Linked DNA regions of Homo sapiens. The protein of the gene in region 1 purifies or fractionates together with the protein of each later gene. This does not show direct contact. Each region holds a gene or a part of one and is shown on either strand. Other genes may lie near its edges.

Region 1 (3,816 bases):
TGGTCTTGAACTCCTGATCTCAGGTGATCCACCCGCCTCGGCCTCCCAGAGTGTTGGGATTACAGGCATGAACATGATTGAGTACTGTGATCCTTGGGGCTCAGCTCGTGTCCCGAACTGTGAAGTCTAAGCACACATTTCCCACACTGTCAGAACAGAAGGCCCAGCAAGCCCGCTTGAGCACCTCCCTGACAGTGGGGAAACCTGCTCTCCCAGCTGCCTTCCCCCTGGTTTCCTTACATGCCTTAAAAGCTTGACCCCTCCGACGGGGAAAAGCAGGGCAGGGGTCTCAACCCCTGTGGCTGCTGTAGGTGGTCTGGGCTTGCCTGGCAGGGTGTAGGGTGGCAGACACTGCCTCATTCCCCGACTACTCCCGATGGGTCACCAGGGGCCTTCCTGCAGGGCATGACTCTGGCCAAGGAGATCCGAGACCAGGAGCGGGGAGGGCGCACCTATGTAGGCGTGGTGGACGGAGAGAATGAATTGGCATCCCCGAAGCTGATGGAGGTGATGAACCACGTGCTGGGCAAGCGCAGGGAGCTGAAGGCGGCCGTGCCCGACACGGTGGTGGAGCCGGCACTCAAGGCTGCACTCAAACTGTACCAGTGAGCGCCCAGCGGGGTCTTCCTGGGTGCTGGGGACTCCCTGGGAGAAGGTGCCCTGGCTGAGGGACTTGGGCCCCCTCCCCATCTATGCCTTGCTTCTGTCCTGCAGTGTGTCTGACTCCGAGGGGAATCTGGTGGTGAGGGAAGTCGCCACACGGCCACTGACACAGGACCTGCTCAGTCACGAGGTAAGAGGGTCTGGAGACCCCTCAGCCTACTGCAGCCTGGCCCCCTTTCCCTCAAGCAGGAAAAATTCCAGGGGGCTTGGGGTGGGCCTGGGAGGGAGAGACTTTTTTGTGTGTGAGGCTTTCCCAGTCCAGCACCTCCAGCTCCATCAGACTCTTACCTCTCCCGACTCTAGGACTGTTACATCCTGGACCAGGGGGGCCTGAAGATCTACGTGTGGAAAGGGAAGAAAGCCAATGAGCAGGAGAAGAAGGGAGCCATGAGCCATGCGCTGGTAGTGGTGGGGGCGGGGGAGGGTCCAGGAGGAGGGCAGAGTGATGGGAGGGAGAGAGCAGATAGCAGCATGGGGTGGGCAGGCAGGCTCAGACCAGGGCATAGTGCCAGGCAGAGGCAGGGAAGGCTGGGAGGAGCAGGATGAGGGCTGGGCCCGGCCCAATGGGAGGGGCCTGAGGGGCCATTCTGTGGTCATCTTCGGGGTTCTCTGCACACCAGGGAGCCAACCACCAGGCAACCCTGGGGCCACCTCAGGATGTGGGCTCTCACCTCCCTGCACCTGAGCTGAGTTTGGAGAAGGGAAGGAGAAATGGAGGGAGGCTGGCTTCCTACAAAAGGGGATTGGGTCAGCTCAGACCAGGGCCAAGTCAGAGTTTGGGGTCATTGCTGGGGCTGGAGTCGTAACCCTAACTGGCTTGGGGCCAGTGTTGGATTGGGGACTGGGCATTAGGATTAGCATTGAGGTAGGGTCACATTAGGCGTTAGATTTGGCTTTGGGATTGGGGTCAGAGTTGTGTTTCGGTATTAGATTTGAAGCTGAGGTCAGAGTGAGTCTTGAGGCCAGTGTTAGGTTTCAGGCGGTATCAGATTTGACCTTGAGGCTGGGGTCAGAGTAGGGTTAGGTTGGGGATTAGCATTGGGATTGGGTTTGGGTTCAGTTTTGGTGCCGGGGTAGATCTGATGGTGGATCTGGTTAGGTTAGAGCTAGGTTTTGGCTTGCATTGGGAGTGGGGACTAGGGGAGGTGCATAGCTTCCAGCCACCCCTTTCTCTTCCAGAACTTCATCAAAGCCAAGCAGTACCCACCAAGCACACAGGTGGAGGTGCAGAATGATGGGGCTGAGTCGGCCGTCTTTCAGCAGCTCTTCCAGAAGTGGACAGCGTCCAACCGGACCTCAGGCCTAGGCAAAACCCACACTGTGGGCTCCGTGGGTGAGGGCCAGGCGGGGGCAGTGAGGGAGCCAGGATCCAGGAGCTGGGCCAGGAGAGCCACTTGGTCCACCACCCACCCTCCTTCCCTGACGTGCATCTTCAACGAAGACTTTTACGCTGGCTCTGGGCTTGTCCTAGCAGATGGGGACGTGGACAAACTCTAGTTGTCACAAAAAGGGAGCTGAGAGGGCTGGGCATGGTGGCACATGCCTGTAATCCCAGCACTTTGGGAGGCTGAGGCGGGTGGATCACCTGAGGTCAGGAGTTTGAGATTAGCCTAACATGGTGAAACCCCGTCTCTACTGAAAAAAAGAACTAATAAATTAGCCAAGCATGGTGGTGCATGCCTGTAACCCCAGCTACTCAGAAGGCTGAGGCTGGAGAATCGCTTGAATTCAGGAGGCAGAGGCTGCAGTGAGCCAAGATCATGCCATTGCACTCCAGCCTGGGCAACAAGAGCGAAACTCCATCTCAAAAAAAAAAAAAAAAAAAAAAGGGGAGCTGTCAGTGATGTGATATTTCATTTGGGATGGGGTTGGGCCTCCCTGAAAACCGAACAGCTTCAGTCTCTTACCAGCCAGTATTTGCTGAGGGCAAGCTCGGTGCCCAGCACCTAGGAGAGGACAAGTAATAGTGTACAGCCCCCAACATTGCACAGCTCCCTATTGAGCTGGGAGACAAGGTCAAGGCTTGAAGTCTGAATGCTGCAGGGGTCAGGACGTAGATCAACAAAGCTAAAGCCTTGCTCTTATGCCTCTCCTGGCTCCCTGGGAGCAGGAGTTTTAGAGGGAGGGAGATGTGGTTCTCTATTGTAGCTCTGCCACATTCTGTGCAACCAGGTAAGCTACTGAATCTCTCTTGCCTCGGTTTCCTCATCTGAAAATGAGTCTAAGAATTGTAGCCACCATTCAGGGCTGTTGTGAGGACCTGGGAGACCTCAGCTGGTGACAGTTGGTTTCATGATTTCCCCCACTCTAGCCAAAGTGGAACAGGTGAAGTTCGATGCCACATCCATGCATGTCAAGCCTCAGGTGGCTGCCCAGCAGAAGATGGTAGATGATGGGAGTGGGGAAGTGCAGGTATGTGAGGGCAGAGAGGCCCGTGCTGGGTGGAGCAGGAATGGTGGAGCCTGTCCTGGACCTCACCCTGGCCTGATACTGGCCCTAGGTGTGGCGCATTGAGAACCTAGAGCTGGTACCTGTGGATTCCAAGTGGCTAGGCCACTTCTATGGGGGCGACTGCTACCTGCTGCTCTACACCTACCTCATCGGCGAGAAGCAGCATTACCTGCTCTACGTTTGGCAGGTCAGGTCCCGCCACGTCCCACCCAGAGCACAGCCGGCTTAGCTCTGCCTTGTACATACTCCTGCTAAGTGGCCATCACCCTTGGGTTGAATACCTCTGGGGATGGGGTGCTCACCCCTTCAAGAAGGACTGCTTTGGCTATGAGGTCCCGCTAGTACCCCCATTCACAGCCCTTTTCCTTTTGGTTCTCTGAGTCTCCCTTCCAATTTTCATTGCCTTCTGCACATTCTTGTCACCTGCTCTGCCCATGGGTTTTTGTGTCTAGATGCGAGGGAGCAGGGAGTGTGTCTAGGACTGAGTGGTGTGGTGCCTGTGATGTCTCCCTGAAGAAGGAGCAGAAAGGAAAGGAGGAGGTTTGGGGTTAAGGCTGGGGTTGCAGGTAGGTCAGGGCTGGGCTGGGTCTGGGAAAGAATTAGGTTTGAGGTTGAGATCAGAACTGAGGTATGGTTCAGATTGGGGTTTTGGCTGTTTCACAGTGGAGTTTGGTGGGGAAGACAATTGGGTTTAGGACCAGT
Region 2 (3,816 bases), on another chromosome or scaffold:
AGCATTCAAGAGGTGACCCAGCTGATTCTGAAAGCACTCAGTCATGTGTGTTCACAAAGAGATGCCTTCACATTGGAACTTATGTTTAAAAGGGAAGCAGAGCATAAAGGTTTGGAAAATTTGCAGTCTGACCATGTGGGAGAAAAGAAAAAACCATTTTCTGGGGAGGAATTCAAGCTGGCTATAGCAATTTGCATGAGCAATGATGAGCCAAATGTCAATAGACAAGACAATGGGGAAAATGTCTCCAGGGCATGTCAGAGATCTTCCCTAGGAGGAAAAATGGTTTAGTGGGCTGGGTGGGCCCCACTGCTCTGTGCAGCCCTGGAACATGGTACCCTACATCCCAGCTGCTCCAGCTCCAGCCATGGCTAAAAGGAATAAAGGTACAGCTTGGGCTGTTGCTTCAGAGGGTGCAAGCCCCGAGCGTTGCCAGCTTCCACGTGATGTTGGGCCTGAGGGTGCACAAAAGACAAGAGGTGAGGTTTGGGAGCTTCTGCATAGATTTCAGAGGATGTTAGGAAACGCCTAGATGGCCAGGCAGAAGTCTGCTGCAGGGGTAGAGCCCTCATGGAGAACCTCTGCTAGGGCAGTGCTGAAGGGAAATGTGGGCTTGGAGCCCCCACAAAGAGTCACCACTAGGGAACTGTTTAGTGGAGCTGTAAGAAGAGGGCCACTGTCCTCTAGACCCCAGAATGGTAGCTCCACTGACAGCCTGCACCATGCACCTGGAAAAGTCACAGGCACTCAATGCCAGCCCATGAAAGCAGGCACAGTGCCTATCCCCTGCAGAGCCACAGGGTTGGAACTGCCCAAGGCTGTGGGAGCCTAGCCCTTGTATCAGCATGGCCTGGATGTGAGACATGGAGTCAAAGGAGATTTTGGAGCTTTAAGATTTAATGACTGCCCGGCTGGGTTTTGGACTTGCATGGGGCCTATGGCCCCTTTGTTTTGTCCAATTTCTCCCATTTGGAATGGGGACATTTACCCAATGCCTATACCCCATCGTATCTTGGAAGTAACTAACTTGCTTTTGATTTTACAGGTTCATAGGCAGAAGGGACTTGACTTGTCTCAGATGAGACTTTGGACGTGGACTTTTGAGTTAATGCTGGAATGAGTTTTAAGACTTTGGAGGGCTGTTGGGAAGGGATGATTGGTTTTGAAATGTGAAAAGGACATGAGATTTGGGAAGGGTCGGGGCAGAATGATATGGTTTGGCTCTATGTCCCTACCCAAATCTCATTTGCAATTGTAATCCACAAGTATTAGGGAGGGACTGGTGGGAGATGAATGGATTATGGGGGCACTTTTCCCCATGCTGTCCTCGTGATAGTGACTTCTCACAAGATCTGATGGTTTAAAAGTGTTTGGCAGTTCCCTCTTTGCTTTCTTTGCTCTCCTGCCGCCATGTAAGACATGCCTTGCTTCCCCTTTGCCTTCCACCCTGATTTTACATTTCCTTAGGCCTCCCCAGCTATGAGGAACTGTCAGTCAATTAAACCTCTTTTGTTTATAAATTACAGTCTCAGGTGGTATCTTTATAGCAGTGTGAGGACAGACTAATACAAGCCCACATGTGATACTGGTATAGTCTAATTTAGCATATAGTAATTTTAACAAGTCACTGTTCAAATGAAGAAAACTCTTCACTGTTTGTTCAACTATTTGCTTTTTGATAGAATTTCCATTCCCTGGACTTTAAGGACTATAGCACTTGTTTAAGCTCATGGGTTTTGAAAAGATAGCCTCAGTAAAAATACTGGCTCTACGATTTAGCAGTTATGTGATTTGGGGAATGCTTTCTCAATTTCCGAGCTTTGGCTTCCTTATCTATAAAATATCAGAGATTAAGCCGACATATATGGTAGCTATTTTCATTATTACTAATAATAACATAAGTAAAAATGTCAAGATTTAAGCTGAACTTATTAGTATGACAGGGTAACAGAATAAAAAACCTTCAAGGGTATGTTCTTGGACATGCCAATTACTATAGACAATTTAAGTTTTTAAATACTTAATTGACAAAAAGTATATATATTTAAGGTGTACAAGGTCACTTGATATACACTGTGTAATGATTACCACAATTAAGTTAACACGTCCATCACCACTAATAGTTACCACTGTGTGTGTGTGTGTGTGTGTGTGTGTGTGTGTGTTTGTAGTAAGAATACTTAAAATCTGCTCTCTTGTCAAATTTGAATTGAAGAATCCTGTCATTTATGACAAGATAAATGAACCTGGAGGACATTATGCTAAGTGAAATAAGCCAAGCACAGAAAGACAAATATCACATGATCTCACTTATATGTAGAATCTAAAAAAGTTGAGGGTGGTTGCCAGGGGCTGGGGAGTGTAGAGCTGTTGGTTTAAGGGTATGAACTTTCAGCTATAAGTTCTGGGGATCTAATGTACAGCATGGTAACTATAGCTAACTGCATTTTTTATTATGGCTATTTGGAAATTAAACATTACAGATGCCTGTCTTTGCTCTCCATCCCGGAGACTCACCATACTCCTTTGCTAGAGACACGCAACCCCTGTAGAAGCAGGACCTAGATCAGACAAAGCCATTACCTCATACTTCCGTTCCCCTAATGGTCTTTTTGTCTTACATCTCTGTTTTTACTATCTGTAAAAGTTCTCCCTCCCTTTTATCTTTGGCATGCAAACAATCATCAAATTCTATCAATTTTATCTTCTATCTCTTAACTTCATCTGTTCCTTCCCCACTGACATAGCCCAGACATGCACCATCTTTCAACTAGACAACTACAATAGCCTCAGAATTGGACTGGTCTCCTTGCCTCTAGAGTTCCCCCATATAATCCATCTCCATGCCATCCTCAGATGGGTCAATGGAAAATAAAATTCTGTTTATTCCATTTTTGGCTTAAAATTCTTCAATGACTCCCCATCACCAATAGGATAAAATCCAAGATTCCTACTATAGAAAATAAAACCCTTCAGGCCTACCTTCTCTGATCTTATCATATACCATTTCATCTAGCCTCCATCTCTCAGACTTCTTGATTTACTAATACCTGTTTATTTGTATGAAACAATACACCATGATATTTATCTTTTACATCCTGGACTGGTACCAATGTTATTCTTCACATCCAGAATGTTTCAATTCTACTGTCTTTGATTTAGATGGAGAATTGCTACTCTTCTGTTATACCCCTCTCCGTAAGGTTCTCTGACTCCTAGATTGGGCTCATTTCTCCTTTCTGTTATTTCTAGACTTTGGATATATTAGTACATACGCCACACTACACTGTCATTTGTTTACATGCTTTTCTCCTTTACCTGACAGTGATTCCTCCAGGATGACAAATACTTTTAGTCAACTCTGGATCCTTAGTGCCTTGGCATAAAATAGAATGTCAGTAACATTTAATACAAATATTAAGTATAAATATAATAATTATTATTACTACTAATTCTTTTACTTCTTCTATGCTAGTTCCTCTGTGTTTGACACCTTGTCTCCCTTTTGCCTCCTCCCCATAGAATAGCTTTTACCCTAAACTCCAGTCTCTGTGGCTGGATCCCACACCACATACTTCCATATATCTTGTCATGCACCACCTGCCTCCTAAGATTAGCACCAGTTGCAGGTTGTCACACCACTCTTTCTTGTGTTCTACCTGCTTATGAAACTCCCACCTATAGCCCATCTGCCCTGGCCCTTGTTGATGCCAATTTCCAATAGCCAGACTCCAGCCCTTCCCAAATCTCTCCTCTCTCTAACTGCTGCAACCTCTTAGGGTCAACTGCCATGCTCTGGAAAGTGTATCTAATGCT

The links.
Region 2: the proteins of VIL1 (region 1) and CHM fractionate together in Homo sapiens (co-fractionation; one large-scale study listed by BioGRID). This does not show direct contact.

Annotation. Positions count from the first base shown.
Region 1 is NC_000002.12:218,428,883-218,432,698, forward strand, and holds part of VIL1 (villin-1), read left to right. Parts: intron 1-402; coding exon 403-605; intron 606-714; coding exon 715-793; intron 794-966; coding exon 967-1,065; intron 1,066-1,842; coding exon 1,843-1,996; intron 1,997-2,974; coding exon 2,975-3,075; intron 3,076-3,163; coding exon 3,164-3,301; intron 3,302-3,816.
Region 2 is NC_000023.11:85,865,890-85,869,705, forward strand, and holds part of CHM (rab proteins geranylgeranyltransferase component A 1), read right to left. Parts: intron 1-3,816. UniProt on the Homo sapiens protein: Substrate-binding subunit of the Rab geranylgeranyltransferase (GGTase) complex.